Homo sapiens: one gene and its partners. The protein of the gene in region 1 binds, or shares a complex with, the protein of each later gene. Each region holds a gene or a part of one and is shown in the gene's direction. Other genes may lie near its edges. The genes, in order: MYBL1, RBL1 and TFDP1.

Region 1 (3,600 bases):
CGACCCAGGGGTAAATAAGAAAACAGTGAAACAGTGATTCCAAATGACATTGGGAACATAATGAAATTTGGGAACTCATTTCTAAATTATTTTTTATTTTTTTATTTTTACTGAACCAGCAACCCAGTAAGGAATGATCTGGAAGAAACGCTTGGCCAGGTGTTGTGGCGCGCGCCTGTAGTCCCAGCTACTTTGGAGGCTGAGGCAAGAGGATCGCTGTTCGAGGCTACTGTAAGCTATGATTGTGCCACTGCACTCCAGCATGGGGAATAGAGTGAGACCTAGTCTCAAAAAAAAAACAACAAAAAAAAAAACAGGAGAGAAAAAGAAAAGCTGTTTTATCTTCCCTTACCTTCCCAGAATCTATACCTTGAAAAAAGGAACTGTTAAAAAAAAAAAAGCCAGTGTGTTTAGGTTTTGACAGCAGTGCATGCAAGCTTCTCTCTTAATTCAGCTCCTCTTAATTCACTCTGCACCTGCATCTGATTTGCAAAAGATGAAGCGTAAAATTTCAAAATAGCAAGTGTTTGTTACAGTGTTAACATGTGGCTCAGTGCTCTATGCAATAGACCATGTTGCCTTGCAAATTTTCCTTAGCCAAGTGTAATTGTTACTGTAGCAAATCTACTTTAATGCTACTTGAAATGAACAGTTCGTAGTTATTAGACTGGAACCTCAAGTAGCTGCAACCGCTAGAAACTCCTCCGGTGGTTCCCCCCTCCCTGGTCTCTCCAGAGGGAAGAAGGTCACCTTCTACACTTAACTACCATGCTCATTCATCTGGACGAAATGCCCAGTCCACTGTCTTCTTCACGCGTTATTCTCCAGGACAGGGCTCCTCCGCCGCGCACGTTATTTCCTGTAGAGCGGGCACGAAATTAAGCACCTTGAAGACCAGCGGTAGACACAGATTATCTCCGGTTCCAAGCACGTCTCCCGCTAGGAACTTTTTTCACTTGTCACTCTTCTGCTGCTTTTTGAGGAAAACAGGTGATATTTGGTTTCCTGCCAGAGTCTTCGTCACTCTCGTAACTATGATGTCTGGGTAAAAATAGCTCACATTTTTGCTTAAAAAATAACGGCCGCGCAAATTTATGGTTAGATTTGTCTCAAGTCTGAAGACCGCGCATCCTAACTAGTGAGGCGGAAGACACCTAAGGAGCCAGGAGCTGTCGCCGAGGCGAGGCTGCGGAGACGTTCCCTTGGTGGGCCGCGGGACCACCCACCCCGCCAGAAACTCGGTTCGCTCACCCTAAGAATTTTGGGGCAACTGGACTTCTCCACCGCCCGCTTCCGGACCCGCTCCGGCGCCGCTTCCGGACCCACTCCTCGGCGAGCGCAGGAACTCGCTCTCCCAGCAGGCCCCGCGCGGTGCGCCTCTCGGCGCGTTCCGGGTCCTATGACAGCTCGGCTCGCATGCGCCACCTACGGCCCCACCCGCGGCCCCACCCCCTGGCTCCCGGCTCCTTCCCCGACTCCCGCGAGTTCCAGTCCCAGCTTCCAGCTCCCCAGCCCCGCCCTCAGCCGCGCGCGCTCTCCCCTCCCCGCCCTCGCTTCTTCGCGTGCGGCCCCCACAGCCAATGAGGTTCAGGGCCGCGTGCGCAGATTCAAACGGCGGCTCTTGAGGGAGGCTGGGCGCGAGATTCGGCGGTGCGGACAAAACCCTGCAGGAGACTGCGAGCCCTGCAGAACTGCTAGCTGCGGGGGAGAGGGCAGGGGTCGGGCGCCTGTGGCGGAGCCGGGCTGGGGCCAGGGCAGGGAGGCTGACAAGCGGCGGGAGAAGCCGGCGGAGGGCGGGATCGCGCCTCCTGACATGTTGGGGGTATCCCTGGCCGGGCCGGGCCGGGGCTAAGAGCGGCGCTGCGGGCCGGGGTCGGGGTCGGGTCGCGGTCCGCCCCCGCTGTCCCTCCGTCCTGCCCTGTCGAGGACGTGCGTTCCGCACTCGGCCGCCTCCAGAGGGAGCGAGGGAAGCGGCTAGAGGATCGGGGAGAAGGAGCATTCGCCGGAGGCTGGAGGAGGCTGACCCGCGTCCCCGCCCAGCCTGCTCCTATGCGGTACTTGAAGGATGGCGAAGAGGTCGCGCAGGTGGGTGGCACCCCTTTCGCCCAGGCCTGTCGGCGCCGTCTCGGCTCAGATTCTCTTTCCTATCCCGCTGCCCCCTCCCGCCATAAGGCCCTCCCTGGCGAGGGCAGAGGTTTTTCTTCCCGCGTCCCCGCGGCCGCTTGGCCTCGATGACCGGAGGGCAGCTGCGACGTGTGGAGAGTTGGGGACCAGGGTGTTTGAGGCGCGGGACGTAAGAGATGCCCAGGTTTCTCGGTGACTCTCCCCGTAATGCGCGTCCAGATTTCTGACCTCATGCTGCCACTTCTTCGAGGCAGGTTTCTTGCCAGGTAAGTCGAGCGCTTTTAGGGAGTCCGCTACGCAGAGAAAACTGACTGTGTCCTGCCGGGAGGACTTGAAAATGGTGTTCGGGCGACTCTTTTCTGAATGACGGTACAGTCAAAATAGGAACTCCGCGGTGAACCTGGGCGGCCACCCCTCTGCCAACTTGGCTATCTTGAAACGTTGTGGAAAATCCTCTGGGGAATAGCTGAGAGGACTTTTTTGATGTTTTCTGTAATTCCTATACCCATATGCTCAGCTTTATGTATATATGTATATTTTAATATCCTCTCTTGGGACCATGTCACATAGTAACAACTAGTAGTAACAACTAGTAGCTTGATCTTGAAATAAAACAATGTGTTTGATTCACTTAATATTTTGAGTGTCTGTGTTTGGCTCTGACCGTACCTAAGTGTTCCACAGAGGTAAGGCACTTTTTTCCACCTTTGCCTGGAAAATGTGCTAGGATGAATTTATGCATCTAATTTTCGTTTACATGCCATTACAGCAGCTACTCATAAATTATGTGGAGTAATTGCTTAGATAACAAAAATATAGGATGTCTTCCGATTTTCAGCATTATCAAATAAACCTGAAAAGATGTTTGGCAGGATTTCCAAATATTTATTTATCTAGATCCACAGCCCCAAAATCTTAACTAGAGATGTATTTCCTAAGTTGAAATTTAGTAATGGGGGTCATTCATTGCAGAGTTCTGCTAAAAATTGGCAGTAACTATACATAATTGTTTTTTCCTTAGTTTTCTGTTAAGCATCTGCTGTGTGCAGGATGCTTCTGCAGAAATCCTTAAGTCTCTGTAAGCTTATTAGTTTTGAAGTAAGTTATAGGACAAACTCTTGAGATGAAATAAATGTGTACACAGACCCCTCTAAAACTGTTTTCAGCCTTTGCACTATTGACATCTTGGACCAGATAATTCTTTGTAATGGGGAGATGTTTAGCAGCATCGCTGGCTTCTACCCAGTAGAGATAGTAACACTCCACTTCCCTCAGTCATGACAGTAAAAATGTCTCCAGACATTGCCAAATATCTTTTGGGGGACAAAATCACCCAGGAAAGAACCACCCTTCTAGAACTTCAAGGACCCAATTAACATCAATCTTCAGAAAAGATAGATATTTAAAGCTCTTGTAATTATGATTGCCGAAGTACTGGTTTAGGCTTTTTGAATTTTTAAATATAAAAAAATTTAA
Region 2 (3,821 bases), on another chromosome or scaffold:
TTTAGTAATCTGACAAATTTTTTGCTGCTGTTGGTAAGAATCTTTTAATGAGGTCCTTAAGAGTCTCAGATTATATCAGCATGTCCAGAGTTTGAATGCTGTATTAGGACGTTTTACGTTGCTATGAAGGAATACCTGAGGTTGGGTGACTTATTTAAAAAAAGAGATTTATTTGGCCCAGGGTTCTGCAGGCCGTATAGGAAGCATGGGGCTGGCATCTGCTCCTGGTGAGGGCCTCAGGAAGTTTACAGTCACGGTAGGTGAAGGGGGAGGAGGCACATCACATGATGAGAGCAGGAGCAATTGAGGGTGGGAAGTGCCACACTTTTAAACAGCCAGATCTCAGGTGAGTGACAACTAAACTCACTACCATGAGGAGAGCACCAAGCCATTCATGAGGGATCTGCTCCCATGACCCAAACACCTCCCACTAGGCCCACCTCCAACATTGGAGGTCACGTTTCTTTTTTATTTTTTTGAGACGGGCTTTCACTCTCTTGCCCAGGCAGTAGCATGTTCATGACTCACTGCAGCTTCAACCCCTCAGGCTCAAGTGATCCTCCTGCCTCAGCTTCCTGAGTAGCTGGGCCCACAGTCACACACCACCATGCTTTGCTAACTTTTAAATTTTTTGTAGAGACGAGATCTCACTGTGTTGCCCAAGCTGGTCTCAAACTGGTGGGCTCAGGTGATCCTCCAGCCTCACCCTCCCAAAGTGTTGGGATTACAGGCATGAGCTACCATGCCCAGCCAAGGAAATTACATTGCAACATGAGATTTGGAGGGGACAAAACATCCAAACCACATTAAATAGCTTTGGATGATTTGCTATTAATGTCTTCTGTCACCTTAAAAAGAAATTATAAGTATTGGCCAGGCGAAATGGACTCAAGTAAGCCTTTCCAATCTACATGAAATAATCAGAACATAGGGCCGAGTGCAGTGGTTCATGCCTGTAATCCCAGCACTTTGGGAGGCCGAGGCAGGTGGATCATCTGAGGTCAGGAGTTCAAGACCATCCTGGCAAACATGGTGAAACCTTGTCTCTACTAAAAATACAAAAATTAGCTAGGCATGGTGGTGTGCACCTGTAGTCCCAGCTGTCAGGAGGTAGAGGCAGGAAAATTGCTTGAAGCTGGGATGCAGAGGTTGCAGTGAGCCAAGATCATGCCACTGCACTCCAGCCTGGGTGACAGACTGAGACTCCATCTCAAAAAAAAAAAATTACAAGTATTATTCTGTATATATTGCTAGACCTTTAATTAAGTGAGCTTTGACATGACAAGTTTTCTATCTAAGACCACGTTAACATAGGGACATAAAAAAATGTACCCAGAATTGGCCTGGGCACGGTGGCTTGCTTGAACACAGGAGGTGGAAGTTGCAGTAAACCAAGGTGGTGCCACTGCACTCCAACCTGGGCACCAGAACTATTAAGTTTTTTTCTGAGTATGTGCTACCTTCTTTACTTTTGGTTGTGGAACCACACATTGGAACTCAAACTCTTGAATTTTACTCCTAACCTGTAACAATCTGGTGCTTTGTAATCAAATTCCCATTTGGAAAATGGAATTGTCTTTCCATTTGGGAGACTTCTGTTTTCCCTCAAACTAATTTTATTTTATTTTATGTTTTTTTTTTTAAATTTATTTATTTTTTATTGATAATTCTCGGGTGTTTCTCACAGAGGGGGATTTGGCAGGGTCATAGGACAATAGTGGAGGGAAGGTCAGCAGATAAACAAGTGAACAAAGGTCTCTGGTTTTCCTAGGCAGAGGACCCTGCGGCCTTCCGCGGTGTTTGTGTCCCTGGGAACTTGCGATTAGGGAGTGGTGATGACTCTTAAGGAGCATGCTGCCTTCAAGCATCTGTTTAACAAAGCACATCTTGCACCGCCCTTAATCCATTTAACCCTGAGTGGACACAGCACTTGTTTCAGAGAGCACAGGGTTGGGGGTAAGGTCACAGATCAACAGGATCCCACGGCAGAAGAAGTTTTCTTAGTACAGAACAAAATGAAAAGTCTCCCATGTCTACTTCTTTCTACACAGACACGGCAACCATTCGATTTCTCAATCTTTTCCCCACCTTTCCCGCCCTTCTATTCCACAAAGCCGCCATTGTCATCCTGGCCCGTTCTCAATGAGCTGTTGGGCACACCTCCCAGACGGGGTGGTGGCCGGGCAGAGGGGCTCCTCACTTCCCAGTAGGGGCAGCTGGGCAGAGGCGCCCCTCACCTCCTGGACGGGGCGGCTGGCCGGGCGGGGGGCTGACCCCCCCACCTCCCTCCCGGACAGGGCGGCTGGCCTGGCAGGGGGCTGACCCCCCCACCTCCCTCCCGGATGGGGGTGCTGGCCTGGCGGGGGGCTGACCCCCCCCACCTCCCTCCCGGACTGGGTGGCTGCCAGGCGGAGACGCTCCTCACTTCCCAGACTGGGTGGCTGTCGGGCGGAGAGGCTCCTCACTTCTCAGACGGGGCGGCTGCCGGGCGGAGGGGCTCCTCACTTCTCAGACGGGGCGGTTGCCGGGCAGAGGGTCTCCTCACTTCTCAGACGGGGCGGCCGGGCAGAGATGCTCCTCACCTCCCAGACGGGGTCGCAGCCGGGCAGAGGTGCTCCTCACATCCCAGACGGGGTGGCGGGGCAGAGGCGCTCCCCACATCTCAGACGATGGGCGGCTGGGCAGAGACGCTCCTCACTTCCTAGATGGGATGGCGGCGAGGAAGAGGTGCTCCTCACTTCCTAGGTGGGATGGCGGCCGGGCGGAGACGCTCCTCACTTTCCAGACTGGGCAGCCAGGCAGAGGGGCTCCTCACATCCCAGACGATGGGCGGCCAGGCAGAGACGCTCCTCACTTCCCAGACGGGGTGGCAGCTGGGCAGAGGCTGCAATCTTGGCACTTTGGGAGGCCAAGGCAGGCGGCTGGGAGGTGGAGGTTGTAGCGAGCCGAGATCACGCCACTGCACTCCAGCCTGGGCACCATTGAGCACTGAGTGAACCAGACTCCGTCTGCAATCCCGGCACCTCGGGAGGCCGAGGCTGGCGGATCACTTGCGGTTAGGGGCTGGAGACCGGCCTGGCCAACACAGCGAAACCCCGTCTCCACCAAAACCAGTCAGGCGTGGCGGCCCGAGCCTGCAATCGCAGGCACTCGGCAGGCTGAGTCAGGAGAATCAGGCAGGGAGGTTGCAGTGAGCCGAGATGGCAGCAGTACAGTCCAGCTTCGGCTCAGCATGAGAGGGAGACCGTGGAAAGAGAGGGAGAGGGAGACCGTGGGGAGAGGGAGAGGGAGAGCTCCTAATTTTGTATTTGTAGTAGAGACGGGGTTTCTTCATGTTGCTCAGGCTGTGTCTTGAACTCCCGATCTCAGGTGATCTCAAACTAATTTTATAACCTGTCAATCTGTTAACTAACATTAACTTTGTAAATTTTATGCAAAATATTGTCTAGGTAATATAGAGAATAAAGGAAGTAGATAGGTGCTCTCGCTCCCTCCATAGCAGTAAACTCTATGTGATGACCACTAATTAATAACCTGTATTCCCCTGGTGATCCTGGGAACGAAAGTGATTTCATAGTGAGGACTTTTTTTTTTTAATTAAATTTAGGCTTGAGGGATGGTGTTTGTTCTTTGTTCATGTAAGACAGTGTCTTGCTTTGTCACCCGGGCTGGAGTACATGATTGAGGCTAACTGCAGTCTCGACATCCTGGGCTCAAGCAATTCTCCCACCTCAGCCTCCCAAGTACCTGGGGCTACAGGCACATGCCACCACACCCAGCTAATTTTTTAAATTTTTGTAGAGATGGGGTCTTAACTATGT
Region 3 (3,821 bases), on another chromosome or scaffold:
TAACATGCGTGATCTGAGCACGTGTAAGGTAGGCTGGCTAAGCTGTGATGTGTGGTAGGAGAGGTGGATGACGTGCATTTCGACTTAGGGTATTTTCAGCTCATGCGGGTTTATCGGGATGTTCCTTGTAAGTTCCTCGTTGTAAGTCAGTTCCTCGTTGTAAGTCCACTCTTTGTGAGTAGGTTTGCTCCTGCCTGGAGGACAGCGGCACGGTGACGGCATCTGTTTTGGGGCCAAGATCCAGTGCCTTGCGTGGTCCTGGGATTCCTGGGGAAGGGAGTGGACCCATGAGGTGGGTTAGAATCGTGTGTGGGATTCTCCAGCCCCCTGTACCTGTGCGTGTGGTATGCGCGGAGCCAGCCAGCACTGCCTGGCGTGGAGCTGGCGGGTTCTCAGTCTGACATCAACTCCCGGAGAATGGCATCTGCTGAACTCAACGTAGGAAGCCGTGCGGGGCCAGCGCGCTCTCAGGCAGCCTGAGTGGCAGGGTCCTTTTGTCAGCTGTTTGGATCTCCCACGTGGCCCAGTGCCCCAGCAGCACACACACACACACACACACACACACGCGTATTGAACAAAACAAGTTTCACAGGACATTTATCCACGCCCAGGAGATTTATCTTTTGTATGGCTTCATTTTGCAGAAAATTCACTTGTTTGATTTCATGGCCTGGTGATCCACAGAAGGCCGCACTCTGATGAGTCTCTGATCATCGGAGAGATGAGTGTCAATGAAAAGATCAGTCCTTGAAATGTTTTTCTTCTCCGGAGCTGACAGGTGATCTGGCCTAGGGATAATTGGAAAGTGTCCCCGTCAGCTGCTCCCAGGGCCACCGCAGGTGATGCATTTATCCCCGTAAGAAGGGGAGCTGGGGGGGCCCAGCTTAGAGTAGCTCAGGGCATCGGCCACATGAAGCCCCCCCGCCAGCATACAGGTGTCCAGCTCCAATCCCTTTAACGGAAACTGCATGTCCATACAAGCAGTATAATCGCTGAGGCACTTTGATTTGTGGTGAATTGAATGATTTAACATTTACTGAGAAATAGTGTTTCCAGTTTAGATAGAGTCGTGCCACAAGATCTTTGAAAAGTCAGAGTTGTATTTGCCTGTATGAGGGTGTCCAGGTATTCACACTCGAACATTCATTGTTGGAACTAAAGTGGTAAGACCTTGTCAAGAGTCAGACCAGCCAGCATGTCCCTGAAGGGAGAGACAGTTGTTGACACCCTCAGGTGTGCTGTGGGGTGGGGCGGGTGGGTCAGTGTCCACACTGGCGTTGCCTCTGGTGGTTCCCCCCAGAGGGGCCCAGGTGTGTGAGCCCCAGGGGCGTGTGGAGCCCCTACCTTCCGCCCCCAGTGCTGGTGGCCCTCCCTCCTTGCCTGACGCCGTTGTGGGTGCAGGGGTTCCCCCAGACAGGGCCCCAGGGCACAGGGTTACCAGGTGATGGCTGTCACCCTGCTGGGCTGGAGGAGCAGCTGCTGTCACCCTGCCTGTGCTTTTGTCTTTTGAGAGCTGTTTTTGGTTTGTTTCAGGCCTCTTTTTAGTACCACAGAAGGATACAATTTCATCCTCATCCATATCACTAAAAGGAAGTAAAAGGGTGAAGGGAAAAATGGAAGCGTGCTCAAGTGCCCTGTGTGGAATTCTGTGCCGCCCCCTTCATTAAACTTGACCGTTAGCGCCTTGTGTGCGGTTTGGGGGTCACGCTCTGCCCTGTCCTGTTCTTGCTTGCTTGGGTCGTCCGAAGTTTCTTGTTGCTTTTGTCTAATTGGAGAAGATGCCTGTGACTGACAAGAGGAAGATGAGCCACATTCAGAACCGGTGGGGTGATGCCGTCACCGTGACAAAAGCGTCCACCGCTGGACGTTTTTCCTGCTCCGTCATGGCTGCTCACTGTGGTTAAGGAAATTCAGCAGTGGCTGCGGATAGCGAACAGATGGTGGGCATGGCACCCTCGCCGTGTGGGAGGGGACTGACTGTCTGAATTGTCTTTTTCGACTGTAGGTAATTGGTACGCCTCAGAGACCGGCAGCGTCAAACACCCTGGTGGTAGGAAGCCCACACACCCCCAGCACTCACTTTGCCTCTCAGAACCAGCCTTCCGACTCCTCACCTTGGTCTGCCGGGTGAGCACTTCCCTCTGGACCCTTAGAGTTGTAGGACTGCTTGCGGTTCGCACCTCCACGTTCTCCTGGGCCACGTGTGTCACACAGTCGTGCGATGGGGCTCCCACGCGCGTTGACGCCAGCCTCCGAATCACACTCACCCATCATCGTGGCCTGCACAGGTGTGCAGCCGAGGCGCACTGCCTCGGTCATGGAGAAGTCGGGCTGGGCACCGCCCACCCCGCTTTGTGTCTGGTGTAGTGGGTGCTCTCTGAAGGGCTGGCAGCTCTTGGCCAAGACGGGGAGAAGCTGGCCTCGTACTCGCCACAGGACCTCGGAGACTTTCCCTCGTCTGTGCTGGGAGCATGTGGGATGGATTTCACCCACTGCCCCTGAATTCAGCCTCTACTGCCCCTGGGGTTACGGCCCCCGCGGGTGGTCCCGCCAGAGCTGCTCCTTCCACTAAAGCAAGATCTGATGAGCTGTGTCTTTCCTTAAAAACACACACACGCAAAGCTGCAAAAGCCTGCCTGTGTTGGTGCCCAAAGCTTCACCAGCTAGGAACCTCAGGTGGCCTTTCCCGCCATGTGGGGACTGACCAGAGTGTACAGAGTTGGGCTTTCCCTCGACCTGAAGCACACTTAGTGCTTTGCACCTGTTGTCAAGCGGCTGTCACAGCCCAAGCTGTATGAAATTACAGCCTGCTGAAATTAGTCCTAAGAATTCCCAAATTTACACTGAAACGTCCCATAGTTCCTGATTCTGGCTGCCCTCTTTAGAAAAGTGGTGCTTGGGGCTCACGCCTGTAATCCTAGAGGCCGAGGCCAGCAGATCACGAGTTCAAGAGATTGAGACCATCCTGGCCAACGTGGTGCAACCCCGTCTCTATTAAAAATACAAAAAAATTAGCCAGATGTGGTGGCACGTGCCTGTAATCCCAGCTACTCGGGAGGCTGAGGCAGGAGAATCGCTTGAACCCAGGAGGTGGAGGTTGCAGTGAGCCGAGATGGCGCCACCGCACTCCAGCCCACGACAGAGCGAGACTCCGTCTCAAAAAAGAAAAAACAACAACAAAAAGAAAAGTGGTGCTTGGTGTACCGGCACATCTCCCATATGCTGATTTGGGTCCTGGGGACGCCTCCCGTTTTCCCTGACGCTTGGAAGGTTAGAGGTGCAGCCTGCTGGGGAGACACTCGCTTTCTGACCTGCAGGACCACTGGGCCTGGGGGCTGGGGCTAGGGGGTCCTGGCCTGCTCACGTGTTGGATCTGCTGCGCCCGTGGGACGTGGCCCCTTTTTGTGCAGCTCATTAGAGCTCTCAGGTAAAAGCATTCCTCGATTCAGGCTGATCCTCAGGAGGGCTGACAGTCGCTTCTCTTTTCCTTTGTATTTTGAAGGAAGCGCAACAGGAAAGGAGAGAAGAATGGCAAGGGCCTACGGCATTTCTCCATGAAGGTCTGCGAGAAGGTGCAGAGGAAAGGGACCACTTCCTACAACGAAGTGGCAGACGAGCTGGTTGCGGAGTTCAGTGCTGCCGACAACCACATCTTACCAAACGAGTCAGTAAGTGTGTGCCGGGGGCCGAGAGGCTGGGGTGGCGGAGCCCAGCGGTGTGGTACGTTTCGCTCTTTTAATATCGGGAACAGTTAAAACCATACAGAAAATGCCAAGTACAGCATAAAAGAATTTTTACCAAACGAGTCAGTAAGTGTGTGC

Evidence for each region.
Region 2: MYBL1 (region 1) and RBL1 share a complex: the UniProt entries of both Homo sapiens proteins name them as parts of the DREAM complex.
Region 3: MYBL1 (region 1) and TFDP1 share a complex: the UniProt entries of both Homo sapiens proteins name them as parts of the DREAM complex.

The regions. Positions count from the first base shown.
Region 1 is NC_000008.11:66,611,304-66,614,903, reverse strand, and holds the start of MYBL1 (myb-related protein A), read left to right. Parts: upstream 1-1,685; 5' UTR 1,686-2,065; coding exon 2,066-2,085; intron 2,086-2,110; exon of another isoform or gene 2,111-2,331; coding exon of another isoform or gene 2,332-2,390; intron 2,391-3,600. UniProt on the Homo sapiens protein: Transcription factor that specifically recognizes the sequence 5'-YAAC[GT]G-3'.
Region 2 is NC_000020.11:37,068,305-37,072,125, reverse strand, and holds part of RBL1 (retinoblastoma-like protein 1), read left to right. Parts: intron 1-3,821. UniProt on the Homo sapiens protein: Key regulator of entry into cell division. Directly involved in heterochromatin formation by maintaining overall chromatin structure and, in particular, that of constitutive heterochromatin by stabilizing histone methylation.
Region 3 is NC_000013.11:113,629,618-113,633,438, forward strand, and holds part of TFDP1 (transcription factor Dp-1), read left to right. Parts: exon of another isoform or gene 1-1,685; intron 1,686-2,005; coding exon 2,006-2,127; intron 2,128-3,502; coding exon 3,503-3,668; intron 3,669-3,821. UniProt on the Homo sapiens protein: Can stimulate E2F-dependent transcription.